2 linked regions of the Homo sapiens genome follow. The protein of the gene in region 1 purifies or fractionates together with the protein of each later gene. This does not show direct contact. Each region holds a gene or a part of one and is shown on either strand. Other genes may lie near its edges.

Evidence for each region. Proteins that work in one complex are often made in the same cells at the same time.
Region 2: the proteins of SMARCE1 (region 1) and PBRM1 purify together in Homo sapiens (affinity purification with western blotting; 11 studies listed by BioGRID and IntAct, with this or other methods). This does not show direct contact.

What each region holds. Positions count from the first base shown.
Region 1 is NC_000017.11:40,627,641-40,630,818, forward strand, and holds part of SMARCE1 (SWI/SNF-related matrix-associated actin-dependent regulator of chromatin subfamily E member 1), read right to left. Parts: coding exon 3,074-3,178; intron 1,354-3,073; coding exon 1,145-1,353; 3' UTR 1-1,144. UniProt on the Homo sapiens protein: Involved in transcriptional activation and repression of select genes by chromatin remodeling (alteration of DNA-nucleosome topology).
Region 2 is NC_000003.12:52,608,372-52,612,913, forward strand, and holds part of PBRM1 (protein polybromo-1), read right to left. Parts: intron 2,221-4,542; exon of another isoform or gene 2,163-2,220; coding exon of another isoform or gene 2,147-2,162; intron 1,585-2,146; coding exon 942-1,584; intron 1-941. UniProt on the Homo sapiens protein: Involved in transcriptional activation and repression of select genes by chromatin remodeling (alteration of DNA-nucleosome topology). Required for the stability of the SWI/SNF chromatin remodeling complex SWI/SNF-B (PBAF).

The DNA.
Region 1 (3,178 bases):
TGCATTACAGAAAAAAACTGGATGCTTGTCTTGCATACAAATATGTAGTGCATTAAAAACACTGAGACCTTTTTTTCATTTTTTTTTTTATTACATTTGGACCTTTAAGAAACATATACCATCAGATATACCACTATTCAGTAAAAATCTATTCTAGTTTTTGGGAAGCTTATGTGTCACAAACTATCTTGCTTCTAGTCTCCAAGACTTTACTAAGTTTATCAAAAAGGTGGGCTCTGGTCTATGGGATCCTGAGCCTTGAGGTTTGGATGTTCTGATTATTGTAAAACAATTTCAAGTGGATTAACTTAATTCCCAGCTGTTTTTCTTCTGGAATGGGCTAATCAGTTTGAATTATCTAGTCCATTACAAGAATATTAAATTCCTTGAGCTTTGTGATCTATTCTGTCTTTGGAAAACCTGGTAAAAAAGTAATTTTTTTTCTATACAATAAGGATGGATTTACCAGAACATACCCAGTATTAATCATAACAAAAAGCAGTATAGATAATGTATATGTGCTGTGTTCACTTTAATAACCACTTCATAAGTAACTACTCTAACTATGGGGACTATTTCTGGATCAGTAAGATCCAAGTGTAGTTAGTTACACACTACACTCAGCTTAACACAACTCTTGGTATCTGACATTGATTAAAAGTAAAAAAGGGTAAGTGAACAAATACATACTCATACATGATCACGTTTTTAAGAAGCTACCCTTTGCAGAAGTAAACAAGAGAGGAGACTTTCAGGAAGCTACTGATGGGGACTGGGAAGGTTTAAAGCTATGGCTTTGGTAAGCACCCCAGTGAGCTGTAGGAAGGCATTGTAAGAGTAGATTCTGCAGCATCAAAGGATAATTCTCTAAAAGAGGTGGGTGTTTTCTCAATTAATCTAAATTCTGAGGCTTTCAGCAGTTGAGGGCTAGAAACAAGATCCAAAGAAAAGAGCCATCTTCACAACACTTAAGAAAGGTGACTGACTGAGCCATTAGGCTCATGATGCTAAATGGTCCAAAAGCCTTTGGTGGTGTGATATGGACAAGAAAAAAAATTAATACACAAACCACGTAACACCATTAAAACCAAAAAACATTTTTTCATTAAAAAAAGTATTTAGAACACACAAAACAAGGCAACACTTATTCTTTTTTCTCATCTTCTGGTATGGGATCTGTTGGTGGCTCCTCCACTGTTGCACTGTTGCTCTCCGAGCCAGTGTTACTATCACTGGTTCCTTCCTCTGCCATACTGTCGACCCCCTCCTGCCCACTCTCCTTGTCCTCAGGAGTAGACGTGCCTTCTTCACCATTCTGTTGGCTCTCTGTTGTTTCTTCAAGGTGTGTCTCCTCTGTAATCACACATTTGTCACTGTCAGTTCCAAGATGAAATTTTACTCTAGTTATGCTGACAGTATACAGCTGTGCTGTCCAATATAGAAGCCACTAGCCACATGTGGTTATTAAACCCCTGAAATGAACCAGTGTGACTAAAGAACTTTTAAGAATGTTGGAACAATTTGGGTATGAAAATCTACTTTTTAGCTGTAAATGAATGAAATTTATTAAATAAATGCAGATCAAATACTTCCGATGAAAATTTAGCTTCTGAATTGAGATGTGTATAAAGACTGTTTAAAAAAAGGAAAGCTGATTTTAAAAATGTTCCTTCTGTGTTGAAATAATTTTATTTAGGATATGTTGAATTAAATAAAACATATTGTTAAAACACTTGTTTTGCTTAACTTTTAAAAATATGTCACTAGTAGAAAATATAAAATTTCACGTGACTTGCATTTTATTTCTGTTGGACAGTGAATGAGAGTTAGTCTGTAGTGCTATGGATTAAACGAGGAGAAAGCAGTTGTAGAAATAATATAAGGTTGGTCTTTTAGACACTTTGTTTAAAGTCATGCTGGGCTGTTTCCTGTAAGAAATTAAAAGCATGAGGTTTTAGCTCTAATAGTCTCAAACGATTTTCTTCAGGTTTTTTCCTTGAACTAGGACAGAATCTGAGTAAAGACCTGCAAACCTTAAGCATAAGACATGCCCCATTCATAGATGCCAAAACAGAGGCAAAGGACTGAGTGTTTGTCTAGTTGCAAAATTAGCAAAAATCAGTTATTTTAATTTTCAAGCTCGTTTTAACCACAAAAATGTGCTCATGCTCCAAATTCATTACAATAAAAAACACATTCATACAAAACAGAAAGAGACTCAGATACTGAAACTTAAAATATGACCATTTCAAATGTTAATCTGCTGGATTAAATTTTGCAGAAATACCTGGTAAAGATATCTATATTCCATTACATGTTTTCCAGATGGTTGTCATCTGAGTACCAAGTATGACTACTGTCCCTCCCACTTCTTGCAACGATGCTCCAGGAAGCCTTTGGTTTTGTTTTCCATAACTACTTTTAGCTTAGTCCTGTTTACACAGTGTACTAGGCAGTGTTAAAACAGTGCCATGAGGTAAGGTGATCTCAAAATTACAAGTGACGATCAATGTAATCAGTACTTTATGTAAGTTTTATTTATACAAGTTATTATTATTATTTTTTACCTTGAGGGATGCTTTTAATCAGGAAAATCAGTATACCTAGAAGTAAGGGTTTTTCTAGGACAGAGCTGGCAATTTTTTTCTGTAAAGAGCCAGATAGAAAATATTTTAGACTTCGCAGGCCAGGCAGTTGTTGTTGCAACTACTCAACTATACTGTTTTATCCCCAAAGCAGCCACAGACAGTATGTAAACAAACAAGTGTGGCTGTGTTCCAGTTTTATTTACAAAAACAAGTGGTGGGCAGGATTGGCTTACAGGTATTACTTTGCAGAATGCTGTCCTAGGACACCAAAGACAATTAATCTTAACGGTAATAACCACATCTTGATAAATAATGTAAGCATTTAAAGGTTAAAATACTGAATGTCAATATCATGTCAAATTTAGTACTGGGAATCACCCTCAGTGGCAGGTACCAGAATACTTGCACTTAGAAAGAAAAACCTAAATTAAAGACAGCCGTACAAAGTCTTGGCACTGCCTCTGCGTTTGTTGCTAGTGGGTTACCTGTCTCCATCGGAATGTTCTCGTCGTCTTTCTTCTCCTCGCCTTTGTTAGCTGCTTGTTCTTCCTCAGGAACGATGCTGCTCTGACTGCGCTCAGCTTGCTCTG
Region 2 (4,542 bases), on another chromosome or scaffold:
TCATAAGGGTTAGAGATTGCCTTCATAAAGTGCTTAGCATGGTGCTTTACGAAGAGCTGGTGCTTAACACAAGCAGCAAATGTTACTATGTTTTTTTTCTTTTATTTGCAAAGACACTGAAAGCAAACATTACTACTTGCTTTTCTTTAAAGGTTCAGAGCAAATTCTGATTTCATAGATTCCCCAGCTGGCATTACACTGCCTGAAGGTCTAGTTCTAAACATGATAGGCTGTAAGCTCCAGGAAGGTAAGGTTTGTATCTTTTTTTTTTTTATATTTTTCCAACTGTCTCTAAGTGCACATATAAAATACACTGTAATTGCTGAATTTAATAGTCAAGTCTGCTATTGACATGTAGCAACGATATATCACAGATAAAAATTAGAAGGAAATTTAAGTTTAAAGTAAATCTAAATTTGATTGCTTCTTTTAGAACATTTAATGTCTTCAGCAAGCTCTTAAGGTGAGAAACCTGAGATTAAAAAAAAAAAAGAAACCCTCTGAGGTACTTAAAATGGTGATCAAATTTCTATCAGTCTAACCTCAGGACAACACCTTAGAGCTATTTTATTTAAAGCATTCGTGCACTGAAGCCAAACCTTAAAAGAAAAACGCTGTTACTATTTCCAATTAGAAACATTTATCTTTTTAAAAAACACATTCTATGAAAGGCTGTATTTTAAGTTTATGCTTTTCAAGAGATTTTCAATTTTGTCTTCCTCCTCACTGGCCTTAAACTAGATGACTTAGTGGTGTGCCTTCTCTCCCCCACAGAATATACTCACTCTTAAGAAGTTCTGGCTGATTAGAATTCAGAATAGCATGCTACCAACTACAAATCATGTATGTAAGTGGAAATAGTACATCAAAGCAATATTCTTTCATCTGTTTTGTATTAAATAGCACATATCCTCAAAATAAAAATGGCTTTGAAAACATACCGATTCATCCTTCTTGCTCGTTCCAATACTTCAAACATATGCTCTTGAAATAAATCAAGCCGACGGTAGCGATTATTTTCAACATTCTTCCTAATTATGTCAAATGTAAGGGGTGGTTTGTTAGGAAAGTTGGGATCCACAGCAGGAATTTCTGCTAAAGAATCGCTGTAGCATCTTCCCTCATCATCCTGATGACTCATGACTGACACAAAAAGATTGTGGATAAGCTCTTGAATCAGCAAAGTCACATTTGGGACATGAGAGTCCTCATCTCCCTCCAGGTCTCTGCGTGTTTCAAGCAGGACTTTGTGTAGAACAAGAGCATCTTTGTAGATCAAAGACTCCGGCTCATTGTATGTACAGGCATTATTAAACATCATGACAAAGTCCTCAACCATAGAGTCAATATCTTGGTACTTGTTGGCCATCATGTGACTTCGAATTTTTTCCATGTCCATGGGCTTTTTAATAGTCAGATAGTAGTCAGGCAACTCAGATCTAGAGGGAAGCCTCAGAAATATGGCACTGAGGCGGCGACCCCTCTTATCAGTATAGTTCTTTACAGCTTCATAGACCTCATTTAGTTTCTGCTGCATTGGAGTCATGTATTTTGATTTTTTAGGAGAAATGCCACTCTTCCTACCTAAAGAGAGATATTTAATGTTAAATGAATAAAATAAATGAACCTAAATTTGTATACAGATGGTAGCATAACCACAAGGGACGATTCCAAGTAATTTGTAAAATCTAGCAATTAGCATGTCTATAGTGAAATATAACCTGCAGACAAAAAAGTACTAAAAATTTTTTTTAACTGTTTTCAGTAATTATATTTTTGATGGGAGACTACTGTAAGGTTGAGAAAGCTGTGAATAAGAAGGAATAAAGCAAATGAGTAGCTATGTGACATTCTATCACCTCTGGTATCCTGGAGAACTGAGATTTTCATCATGGGATAAAAAGAGATAACGGATGTTAAAACGTAGGACATTAATAATTACCTTGAGGCCTTTAATCTCAATTGAAAGTATCACTATGAACTTATGATGTAATTTATCTTTAAATATAAACATACAAACAAACACACAAATTTCCTAGCTCTGTCCACTGAAAATCGTACAAACAATGACTACCTCAGTAGCAGTATAGCCCACATTAGAGTTTTAAAATACTAATTCCAAATAGTAATGTTGAGGAGCCCTCACCTTTCAGCAGAAACATGAAAAAGGTAGGGCTCCTTGGTAAATGGCTGATTCCCAGTCTGGTATATCTTCAAACACTAGACAGTAAAGAATCTATCAATGACTTCTTACCATGACTTCATGTCAATAGAATATAGGAACCGGCTGGGCGTGGTGGCTCATGCCTGTAATCCCAACACTTTGGGAGGCCAAGGTGGGTGGATCACCTGAGGTCAGGAGTTCAAGATCAACCTGGCCAACATGGCGAAACCCTGTGTCCATTAAAAATACAAAAAATTAGCCGAGTGTGGTGGTGGCGCCTGTAATCCCAGTTACTCGGGAGGCTGAGGCAGGATAATTGCTTGAACCCAGGAGGTAGAGGTTGCAGTGAGCTGAGATCAAGCCATTACACTCTAGCCTGGGCGACAGAGCGAGACTCTGTCTCAAAAAAACAAAACAAAAAGAATACAGGAACGAGCCTGAACCAGCCTGAGTATCAATAAGGACAATAACTTCAATTACAACTCAGCCATATGTTTAAGTCTGGTAGTTCTTAATAATACGTACAAACAAACAACAAAATGGGTAAATATTGAAGGATGTTAGTAAACCAATACATATTTTGAAAACTGGTAAAGGTGAAAACAAAATAAAACAAAAATCAAGCCTTTATCCTTTCAAAAAGCAAGACACACACAAAAAAAACACTGTACCACTGGCTAATCAAATATTAGATAAGGCAAAGTTTCTCTATAGCTAATAAGGAATAAAATTAAAAACTATCACAATTTTACATCCCTTTCATGAATTAATAATTAATGAAGTATGCAACAACACCTGTTAACAGAAAGCCATAAATAGATTTCACATGTACCTGATGGAAGACCATATATTACCTATGAAGTCGGTTTTTCTGCCTAAGGGAGAGAACAGGGGATCAGACCTCAATCTGATCAAGCCTCTGGCTCCAACTACCAATTTATAGGAAATACAAAGGACAGAGGAACACATGAAAGTACAACATAGTGGGCCAGGAGCTGTGGCTCATGCCTGCAATACTAGTACTATGGGAGGCCAAGGTGGGCAGATCACTTGAGCCCAGGAGTTCAAGACCAGCCTGGCAACATAGCAAAACCCTGTCTCTACTAAAAATACAAAAAAATGAGCTGGACGTGGTGGCGTGTACCTGTAGTCCCAGCTACCCGAGAGGCTAAAGTGGAAGGACTGCTTCAGAAGGGAGGTGGAGGTGGCAATGAGCCAAAAATGTGCCACTACACTCCAGCCTGGGTGACAGAGTAAGACCCTGTCTCCACAAAACAAAACAAAACACAAAACACACAAAAAACCCCACAACATATGGATGCAATCAGCAAAACCCAGACTATGGGAAACTACAGCACAAATCTAATTTCTTCAACAGATAAATGGTAAGGGGTGGAAAAAGAGAGAGCTGGAGGGGAGTTTACAGATTAAAAGAAGTATCGGGCTGGGCATGGTGGCTCACACCTTTAATCCCAGCACTTTGGGAGGCCGAGGCGGGCAGATCACGAGGTTAGGAGTTCAAGACCAGCCTGGCCAATATGGTGAAACCCTGCCTCTACTAAAAATACACAAAAATCAGCCGGGCGTGGTGGTGCACACCTGTAGTCCCAGCTACTTGGGAGGCTGAGGCAGGACAATCACTTGAACCCAGGAGGCGGAGGTTGCAGTGAGCCGAGATCGTGCCACTGACTCCAGCCTAGGCAACAGAGCGAGATTCCGTCTCAAAAAAAAAAAAAAAAAAAAAAAAGAGGTATCAATCAGTTGCAGTATGTGGACTTTATCTGGATTCTACTTTAACCAGACACTGCCTCAAGACATGATACAACATAAGGGCAGCAAACCCCTTATAAAGTATCACCACCAAGGTGAAACTTAATCTAATCGCACCTTCAAAGTTAACTTCTATTTATAAGAAATAAGGGAAATAAAGAAAAAAGTTACAGATATCACAAGGAAGCAAGCCTGTCTAACCTAGAACTTGGGACACTGTACAGGAAAGTGACCTGATTTCTTCAATGAGTTACTGGCATGTGGAAAGAAAAGGAAGGAGACTGCTCTAGATCATGGGTTTAAGAGTATAACAATCTGCTGGGTGCGGTGGCTCATGCCTGTAATCCTAGCACTTTGGGAGGCGGAGGCGGACGGATCACTTGAGGTCAGGAGATCGAGACCAGTCTGGCCAACATGGTGAAGCCCTGTCTCTATTAAAAATACAAAAAAATTAGCTAGGCATGGTGGCGTGTCCCTGTAGTTACAGCTACCCTGCAGGCTGAGGCAGAAGAATTGGGGGAACCCAGGAGACGGAGTCTGTAGTGAGCCGAGATCGTGCCACTGCACTCCAGCCTGGGCAACAGAGTGAGAATCCGTCTCAAAAAAAA